2 separate regions of the Homo sapiens genome follow, and region 1 is linked to region 2. Evidence: fine-mapped expression QTL. Tissue or cell type: whole blood. Region 2 holds a variant in brackets; the other region holds the start of a gene. Each region is shown on its reference strand, or each on the opposite one.

Region 1 (5,238 bases), not on the chromosome of region 2:
ATCCAACTTCTGCCCCAGAACTTCCCCTCCCCACTGCTATCTTAAAAAAAAGAAAAAAAAGTTAACCAGTCTTCAGTTCTCCTGAGGAAGCATTTGAAAAGTCTGGTAGGGACTACAGGAAAGCCTGGCACTTAGGAAAACCACAAGAAAGGGATTCAGAACTAAAAGAAGGAAGATGAATAGGACGGAGGTGTGGAGAGTGTTAGAGACCCGAAGGTGAGCTGCGGCCCAAAGAGCCCTGGAACTATGCTGGAAAAAAGGTGTGTAGGTGTGTAGCAGATAAGGACTCTGGGGAGAGCACTGAAGAAAGGAAGAGGGAACTTTGGAATTAGAAGGCTGAAGGAGGAGAGTTCCAAGGGGGTAGAAAGAGACAATTGGGATGCAAGGTGGCTCATGCTTGTAATCCCAGCACTTTGAAAGGCCAAGGCGGGTGGATGGTTTGAGCTCAGGAGTTCACGACCAGCGTGAGCGACATGGTGAAATCTCAAAAATACAAAAATTAGCCGGGCATGGTGGCGTCGCCTGTGGTCCCTGCTACTTGGGAGGCTGAGGTGGAGGATAGCTTGAGCCTGGAAGGTCGAGGCTGCAGTGACAGAGTGAGACCTCCTCTCCAAAGGAAAAAAAAAAAAAAGAAAGGAAAGAAAGATACAATGGAAGATATGCTAATAAGGGAGGGAGGAGAAAAACACAGCTGGAGGGGTTGCTGGAAACTGGGAGATCAGGCAGGCCTGGGGCTTAGAAAAGCCTAGAGAAACCCTGGGAGCTGGTTAGGGGCCACCACTCTCATCTTTCCCATGGTGTGTCAGGGCTGCGGGTCCCCCTGAAAAGAGAGGCAGAACAAACAGTTGGGTCGGACAGCCTCTACCTCCTTACCCTCCAGAAAGGGCCTGAGATGAGGGATGGGCCCTCCAACTGGATTAGTGGGGGTTGCACTCCTTCCTACGAGTACTTGACCAGATAAACGGGGAAACAAGCTACTGTCAGAGGCTCTGATTGCAACAGCATAAAAAAGGCAATACTTCATCTAGGTGAGAAATTTGACAAAAGTACCTCTCCATGGAGTAAGCTGCAGCTCTCCCTGTATAGGAGCCCTCAAATACATCTTAGTCACCACTCGTTCACGTTAGGAGTTAAGACCAGCTTTCTAGGAAAACCATGTTGCATCTTCCAACAGTAATTACTTCTGAAACAGTAATTTTACCACACGACTCAAGGGGAAAACTTTTTTTTTTTAAATTTATAAAGGAGTTGGGGGTCTCGCTATGTTGACCAGGCTGGTCTTGAACTCTGACCTCAAGTGATCTGCCCACCTCGGCCACCCAAAGTGCTGAGATTACAGGCATAAGCCACGGCGCCAGGCCAAGGGGAGAACACTTTTTTTTTTTTTTTCCTGAGACGGAGTCTCACTCTGTCGCCCAGGCTGGAGTGCAGTGGCGAGATCTCGGCTCACTGCAAACTCCACCTCCAGGGTTCAAGCGATTCTCGTGGCTCAGCCTCCCGAGTAGCTGGGATTACAAGCGCGAGCCACCGTGCCCGGCTAATTTTTGTATTTTTAGTAGAGACAGGGTTTAACCATGTTGGCCAGGGTGGTCTCGAACGCCTGACCTCAGGTGATCTGCCCGCCTCGGCCTCCCAAAGTGCTGGGATTACAGGCGTGAGCCACCGCGCCCGGCCGGAAAACACTTTTTAACACGAAATCGAATACGGATAAACGTGGTGTCATTTGAAAACTCATACATTTTACAAAACAAAAGTTGGGGTGGCTCTTTCAGACAGGGCCGCCGGGTGTGCGCAAGTTCGGGTTTGCTCTTCCTTGCCACGGGGGTAGGTCCCGTAGCACCTAGGTGGAAAGGCCGCGGCTTTTACGGCGGGGTAGGCGAGGGTCGCCCGAGTGATCGCAGGCTCCGACTGGGTCTCGAGGGTCGGCTGCTTCGGTCTGCCCTGGAGAGGTTTTCAGCTTCGGCGCGAGGCACTTGGGCAGGATCCCCGGGCTGCACCCTCCTCCGCCCGCGCCCCGTGGGGCTGGAAGTGGGAATGTGCCCACCCTGGCGGGGACCGGGGGCCGCACAGCAGTTGGGGGTGGGTGGGGGTGGGTAGGAGTAAGGGGACAGGGACACCGCCGCTCGGAGCCCGGGACCCCGCGGCATCCAGTGCGTCTGTGTCGGTCCCAGTGGGAGACCTCCCACCCCGAAAAGAGACCGAAGTGGCGGAAGGAGCCCGCACCCGCCTCCCCAGGTCGGCGGTTTCTCTAGCGCAAGGTGACGGGCGTGGACGCGGCTGTGGGGCCGGGAGCGGAGGGTTGGGGTCTGGCCTCCCGCGCCGGGGCGAAGGGGCAGCCGCAGCGCAGAGGCCCGCCCCGCCCTCCCCTCCCGTCACGCCCAGCCTCCCGGCCCTTGGGCTGCTCGCGGCCTTTTTTTCCCGGCTGGGCTCGGGCTCAGCTCGACTGGGCTCGGCGGGCGGCGGCGGCGGCGCCGGCGGCTGGCGGAGGAGGGAGGGCGAGGGCGGGCGCGGGCCGGCGGGCGGGCGGAAGAGGGAGGAGAGGCGCGGGGAGCCAGGCCTCGGGGCCTCGGAGCAACCACCCGAGCAGACGGAGTACACGGAGCAGCGGCCCCGGCCCCGCCAACGCTGCCGCCGGGTGAGTCGGGGCCCCCGCCCGGCGCCCGAGCCCCGCGCGGGGGTGGGAAGGGGCTGCGGAAAAGTTGGGAGCCCCGGGTGCCGCTTTGTCGCGGGGCCGCGGAGGGGTCGGGCTGGGAAGGCCGCGGGGCCGGGGCGAGGAGGGAGGCGGCGCTGGCGGGGGGCGCTGCGGGCGCTCATGGCGGCGGCCGCCGGGTAAGGCGGGCGCAGCGCCTCAAGGGAGCGGCCGGGGCCGGCGGGCCTGGCGCCGCGGTGTCCGCGGCAGCGCCGCCCTGAGCCGGAGAAGCTTTCCCGGGCAACAGGTAGGGCGGAAGGTGGGGACGCGGGGGCTGCGGGCGACGGGGCCGAGCCGTGGGCTTCCCTTTGTTGGGGAGTGGAGGAGCTTGGTGACCATTGGCGCGAGAGCCTCCACCCTGGCAGCGGCCCGCGGGGTTGCCCTGGCCTGGACGCGTCCTGTGGCTTGGGTGGGAGGAGAGGGGAGGGCCCTGCCCCGTTTTCTTCCTACCGGCCCACCGTGCCCACCTCGCAGGCGAGGTCAGAGCTTCCATGTGCTTAACGGGAAACAGGAAGGAGCGGCCCGGAGCGCCTGCCCCGGCCCGGTAGGGCTAAGGCATACCGTTATGAGGTGTGGATGGCTGGCAAGGGAGCTCCTGGTGGAACTGGCTTTCTGGGCCGTAGCTTGTTAATCACTAGAGGCCCGTGGCAAGTGGGTTGACTGCAGGTGTAGAGCACTCATCTTTAGCCTGCAGTTGGAGTCTCTCCCTCCCTAAGCCTAGCTCCTGGCATCAAAACCTGGTTTCAGTCACCTGAGTTGCCAGGCCCAGGTTCAGGGGGTTCTGAGGATCGTGGCGAATGCAGTGAGCCCCTGTTCCTGGAGAAGTGAGTCCGAGCAGGCCTCCAGCAGGCAGTCACCCCCATATCTGTGCTGGGGCAGGGGTGGGTGGCGGTTGCTGCCGCATACCGGAGTCGGGATGACCGCACCGGGGTGTGAGTGGCTGCACATGTAAAGGGGCTCCTAAGGGTAAGGACTTGCCTGCAGTCCTGTCCCTGAGGACCTGGCGCTGACCATACCGTGATCTGCACAGTCTGTTCCAGAGAGGGATCCTTTTCTCCCCTGGTCCCCCACTTCCCTCACTGGGGCCTCTGGCCAGATTTTCCCCTGGGAGGAAGGGCCTCCTTTTACCCCTGTCACTGGCCATAGGCTGGCTGATCCCTCACTGTGTCCTTCAACACCGCCCCAGCTGTCTCTCAAACCCACCGGCGTCTCCCTGCCCCTGGGGCCATAGTCTCATGCAGTGTTTTGGTCCGTGGAGGCCTTTGGTGGGACTTTGCAGACAAGCTGTAGGCCAGATGAGGCTGAGGACTACTGTTCTGACTGCCTCTCACCCACCTCTTTTTTACAATCTGGCTTATTTTGAGGCCCATCCTGCAGCCTGGAGGGATAACACACCTCTCATTGGCTCCATCCATGGCTTGTAGACTTCTAGTACATGACCTGCTTCTGTTGCCTGAAAGTTTTCAACAAGGAAGACTATTCAGGACTTCTTCAGTGGAAGCAGGGAGCCGGTGGGACCTTTGTCACTCCTCCCTTGTCAACAACTCCTTTCTATTTTCCTCAGTTATTCTTCCAAACTATGAGAGCCAGTCAGACTGACCACCTGGAGTCTGAGAGAATTCCTTCCTCTCAGGCCGAAACTTCTGCCTTCTCAGCCGTTTGGATCTACAAACTCCCATGGGGATCCTCTGCTCCTTTCATCCACCTAGAGGGGTCTTGTGGGGGTGTCAGTCAGAGTTGGGGCAAAGGTTGGGGCTGGACAGAGTCCTGCTCAAGTTCCTGCTAATCTAATGCCAGTTAAATCCCTGCTCTTCTGGCCCCTCTCCAGCCTGTGCCTCAGAAAGTGGCATCTGTGCCTCCAAGGCAGGTGTGTGTGAGAGAGAGCGTAGACAGATACCATGTCTCTTCATGTGTATGGGGGAGTGAAGTCTGGGTGGAAAAGTGTTTCTAGATGTGATTTTCTCCATAAGAAGTCAAGTAACTGCCCTGAAGGCCCAGGGGGCCTGGAAAAACAGGGTTGTCTCCTTACCGTGTGTACACTTCAGCTTTTCTTGCCCCAGCCTCTTGTTTATGGGGTCTTGCTTGGATCTGTGTGCTGGTGCTAAGAGGCCTCCCCAGTACTGCCACAGGGACCCAACTCTTTGGTTCTGTGGGGATGTGTAAGTGAGGCCGGCCAGGCCCCAGCTGTCCTCCCCTCTCTTCATGTTGAGTCAGAGGTCCTGACCCTGCTGAATCTGGGGCCTCCCTGCTGGGGAGATGGGGGTAGTGCCTCTCTGCTAATGGAGGTGCAGGACCACCAGGGAGGGCTGTGGTCATGGGAAGCCTGCAACCTCAGTGTAAAAGCCCCCATTAATCTGCATTTCCCAAGTCTTCCACTCTCCCTGCTTGGAGTGGAAGAGGACAGGCGCTATCTCATCTTGGGGATGAGGAAGTTGCACTGCCCAGGTGTCTGTCCTTGACCATGCTCTAGTGCCTACTTTGCCTGCCCCCCACCCCCTGTTTTGCAGGCATGAGACATTCCTGGGCCCCAGGAGTCCAGCAGGGGCTCC
Region 2 (5,238 bases):
ATCTTGGCTAACTCTGAAGAATGGACTGTTGTAGGGGCTGGTAAACTTTCAGTTTTTACTTTATATACTTTTGTATTGTTTGTTAAGTGAGCATATATTTTATAATTTCATGCATGTGGTATGTTATAGAATGAGACTTTATAATTATAAAGCACTTTATTGGATTTATAGGTACAATTGTCATTTGACATAAGTAAGTTAAGACCTAGAGTTAAATAGTATCATTTGTTAGACCATATAGAGAAATGAATATCCCTTTCCTGATGGATTTTGAAGTTGATGGTGTTCTTCTTGGTATGTACTTTGACAGGATTCATGTGATAATTAATATAATCAAAGACTTTCCTGCAGCTTCTTAAAGAGGCTGAGCCCAGAGATGACAAATAAGTTTCATCATATTTTATTGTAGCTGCCTAGAAGGATGTGCTGATAAGGATCTCGAGGTTATAACTATGTTCACTGGGCAAGAATACCGTGATCAGTAACTGGCCTGACATAGTTACTAGAGGATGAGGAAGACAGCTGATCATTTTCCATGTATTTGCCATCCCCGAAGCCTAAACTTTTAGGTGGTAAGTTTCTTTATGAAGGTAGTATTTTCCTTTTTATCCAAATAAGTCCTGTAGGGACTTATTGTCTGTACTGTCCATCATATTTAATCAAATAGTATTTTGCACAGTTATTGAATAGTTTCATGATAAATCATGTTAAGATGGCAAGCACTGGGACCTTTTGTATCCCTCATAGGTGGTAGCAAGATGTTATACTTGAATGAACTACTCAAGAATTAATGACTAATTAGGCCGGGTGTGGTGGCTCACGCCTGTAACACCAGCAATTTGGGAGGCCATCGTGGCTGATCACCTGAGGTCAGGAGTTTCAGACCAGCCTGGCTAACATGGTGAAACCCTGTCTCCACTAAAAATACAAAAATTAGCTCGGCATGATGGTGCATGCCTGTAATCCCAGGTACTCAGGAGACTGAGGCAGGAGAATTGCTTGAACCCGGGAGGCAGAGGTTGCAGTAAGCCAAAATTGCGCCACTGCACTCCAGCCTGGGCGACAGAGTGAGACCATTTCAAAAAAAATGATTGATTGATTGATTTTGGCAATGTGTGGTTGTAGCTGATAAGGATGACCCAATATGGTTGAGCATCAGTTAAAATAAATAATTTCATCCTTGTTTATCAAAGCATTTACAAGTATTGGTGCTAACCTGAAAAAATATAGTATTGTGAGTATAATTTTTTTCTGTGACCCCCTTCAGTCTTCTCAGTTCATGATACCAAGAAAGAATTAAATGGCTTAAATGTTGAAACAAGGAGTAGTTCAATTTTTTACATTTTTGTTCTAAGAGGGCACCAATGTTGCATATATCCTGGATGTGGAGAATTTAAACACATTGTTGATAGAATTTCTTTTCATAAGAACTAGTTGTTGGAAAAGGAAAAATACAGAAAATCAGTCCCTCCACAACCCCCTCCCCCACATTTTTTTTTCTTTTTTTGGTTTAGTAGTTGTGGAAAGAGAAAAGTGCTTAATCAGCATAGTGTGAAGCTGCCAGCATATTGAGTCCCCAATTATTTCAGACTGAATTTTTAAAAATCAAGCATTTGTTTGACATCCTGTTTGCAACCATATGAACAAGATATATATTCATCCATTCATTTGTTTAACAACATCTATTAGATGTCAAGCACTGTTTAGGCTCTGGGAGTAGAGTGCTAGACAGGAGATAGAGTCCCTGCCCCATGTTCATTATGGATGAGAAAAATTAGATCTCTACAAAATGTCTTGCCCAAAGTGGTAGAACTGGGGCTTGAACTAAGTATCCACATTTTAAATTCAGTGCTCTATTCTTTGTATCACACTGCCTCACATAATTCTAAAGGACCCTTATTGAATATCAGCAAAAATGTTCTATCTGCCTTGGTTGATTGATTGATTGATTGATTGACTGATTGCTCCTTCTTTGGTGGTAGTCTTTTCCTTGCCATGTGCTCTTTTCCTTGCCATATTGAATGAAGGACATATATACTATCTGTCAGGATCACTTACCTTCTTTTCTGATCTTAGGACAAATATTTATTTTTCTGAATAGCAACCTAGGATCATGTCATTAAAAATAGTATCTGAGTAAAGTAATTGGAGCAGTATTTTTCAAACTCTTAAGTTTTAATTTGGTAAAATGAAACCAGTAAAAATAAAAATAAATCTCACAGTGCATCATGAGTGGTAAGGTAAATATTGTTAGATTAAACTGTAATTCATGAATATATGTGATATGGTTTGGCTGTGTCCCCACCCAAATTTCATCTTGAATTGTAACTCCCACAATTCCCACATGTCGTGGGAGTAACCCAGTGGGAGGTGATTAAATTATGGGGGAGGGTCTTTCCTGCACTATTCTCATGATAGTGAATGAGTCTCATGAGATCTGATGGTTTTAAAAATGAGAGTTCCCCTGCACAAGCTCTCTCTTGCCTGCCACCATTCATGTAAGACATGACTTGCTCCTCCTCGTTTTCTACCATGATTGTGAGGCCTCTCCAGCAATGTGGAACTGTAAGTCCATTAAACCTCTCTTTCTTCCCAGTCTTATCTATCATAGTTATGATATGTCTTTATCAGCAGCATGAAAGAGGACTAATACAATATGTTTGAACTTGGTTGCAACATGAAATGTTTTTCTTAGTGTTGGTTTGGTAAAAACATTTGAAACATATTGGTTTAAAGGGCATCCAATAAGATATCATTTGTGAAAAAAACAGGAGTAAATGATTGTCCTTAGTTGTTATTTGATTGTATGTGTGTGCCTCATGCATGGTGGGTGTTGTTTACCAAAAGGATTCAAAGCAATAAAGTAGAATTAGTGTGAGGAAAGTGCTAGGAGAAGCTGTTTGGCATCTAAATATATGCCTGAATGGATCTTTTTCCATTAAGCACATACATGTTGCAGTTATTGGTTTCCCTGTGTCCTGCACTTTTGCTTATTGTGGTTTCCTGTATTGAGTGGATTCATTGTTTTCTGAAATTTATTGTAATTTAATTGTGTGATATATAGAAAACTTAGAGAAAGTACGTAATTGAGGTGATTTCCTAGACATTATCTGATAGTCTGTAGGTGTCTAGATTTTAAGTTGTTACATATTACAAACTGTTAAAGCTGATTTAGAGTTGTTACATATCAT[G/A]TACTGACTTATTTTAAAGCTGATTTAAGATTTTATTTTTACATTTAATTTATAAATGTTTGTCAGCAGATTTTGCCTGAAGATATTATTGGTAATAAAAGAGTAACAGATACAGTTCCCTAAGGTTTTTGGCTTTGTTTTGTTTTTGAGACAGGGTCTTGCTTTGTCACCTAGGTTGGAGTGTGGTGGCACAATTGTAGTTTACTACAGCCTGAAACTCACAGACTCAAGTGATCCTGCCACCTCAGCCTCTTGAGTAGCTGGGACAACAGGCATGTGCCACCACACCTGATTTACTTAAAAAAAAATTTTTTTTTGTAGAAACAGGGTCTCACTATGTTTCCCAGGTTGGTCTCAAACTCCTGGCCTCAAGTGATCCTCCTGCCTTGGCCTCCCAAAGTGCTGGGATTATAGACATGAGCCACTGCACCTGACACAGAGATGTGTATAAATATCATGTGCTTATTCTTTGCAAGGCAGGAATAAGATATTTATTCCCTAGAATAAGCCTATAATGTAATAATAGAGACATAAACATAGAGAAGAGACAGCCTTAAAAGAGTGTAGAAGAATCTTTCTCTCCTCAGACAGAAGAAAAGAGAATAACATATGAGCGATAAAAATGCTCTGAGAAGGGATTTGGGCAGGAAAGCCGAGCAAGCCCTGGTTGCTGGTATCAAAGACCTTCTGGCAGCATTGTGTTATGGACATATTTCACTTAGTTGAGTTCAGCAGTCGATTTCAAGGGGAAATAAAAGAACAATAATTAGCACAGGAGGTTGCCCCTAGCATGTCACACAGTGGGTGTATTGTCCTGGAATGAGTACGTTCTGGGCAATGTGAATCTCTTGTTCCCTTAGGTGGTCTCAATTTCCCTCAAAACTCACCAGACACATAAATATTTTGAGTTAAACTCAAAGTAAGCACCCTTACTTGCTTTCATGAAAAATAACTACTCTCCTACTTCATTCAAAAAGCCGAGGCTCTAAATTGTGAATGGCTTCCCTCCCATTCACCCTTTCCCCCTTCTGCCATTTTTCGCATCTGCACCTTTCCTCCCCTCCACTTCTCCAGCTTCGAAGGATCTTAGTCCAGACCTGTCTTGTGCACTGTTGGACCCTGCTTACTCAATTTATCCTCTCCCTCATGATCAGAAGCTACGCAGCACGAAGGATAAAAACCTTGGCTTTGGAGCCACCTTCTAAGTATGTCACACAGTTATCAAACCTCCATGTGTCTCAGTTTTTTATTTGAAAAATGGGACTAGTAATAGAGTGACATAATTAGGCTTTGTGTCCCCACCCAAATCTCATCTTGAAATTGTAATCCCCATAATCCCTACATGTCTAGGGAGAGACCTGGTGGGAGGCAATTAGATCATGGGGCCAGTTTTCCCCATGCTGTTCTCATGATAGTGAGTGAGTTCTCACAAGATCTGATGGTTTCATAAGAGGCTCTTTCCCCTTCACTCCTCACTCTTCCCCTGCTTCCATGTGAGAAGGTCCAAGCTTGCTTCCTCTTTGCTTTCCACCATGATTGTAAGTTTCCTGATGCCTCCCTAGCCGTGCAGAACTGTGAGTCAATTACATCTCTTTCCTTTATAAATTACCCATCTGAGGTATTTCTTTATAGCAAAGTGAAAACTGACTAACACAGTTAATTGATACCAAGGTAGTGGGGTATTGCTATAAAGATACTTAAAAATGAGGAAGCAACTTTGGAACTGGGTAACAGGCAGAGGTTGGAACAGATTGGAGGGCCCAGAAGAGGACAGGAAGTTGTGGGAAAGTTTGGAACTTTCTAGAGACTTGTTGAATGGTTTTGACCAAAATGCAGTTAATGATGTGGACAATGAAGTACAGGCTGAGGTGGTCTCAGATGAAGATAAGGAAAGTCTTGGGAACTGGAGCAAAGGTCACATTTGCTATGCTTTAGCAAAGAGACTGGTGGCATTTTGCCCCTGCCCTAGAGATCTGTGCAACTTTGAACTTGAGAGAGATTATTTAGGGTAACTGGCAAAAGAAATTTCTAAGCAGCAAAGCATTCA

The links. PIP is the estimated chance that this variant, and not a neighbour inherited with it, causes the effect. A credible set is the group of variants that fine-mapping cannot tell apart.
Region 1: CERS2 starts here. The variant in region 2 is the best candidate, but not a certain one, in a credible set for the expression of CERS2 in whole blood (TOPMed, PIP 0.70).

What each region holds. Positions count from the first base shown.
Region 1 is chr1:150,972,016-150,977,253 of GRCh38, reverse strand. It overlaps CERS2 (ceramide synthase 2), which reads left to right and starts at 2,419. Exons shown (of 11, transcript NM_022075.5): 1 at 2,419-2,635. RefSeq lists enhancers at 1-269, 3,168-3,312, 3,270-4,201, cis regulatory regions at 1-409, 3,240 and silencers at 2,115-2,554, 2,575-3,064.
Region 2 is chr6:144,048,997-144,054,234 of GRCh38, reverse strand. It overlaps a transcript of PLAGL1 not described here. Among named protein-coding and RNA genes, the nearest start is that of PLAGL1, 43 kb to the right of the region's middle. The variant G/A (reference allele first, on the strand shown) is at 3,192.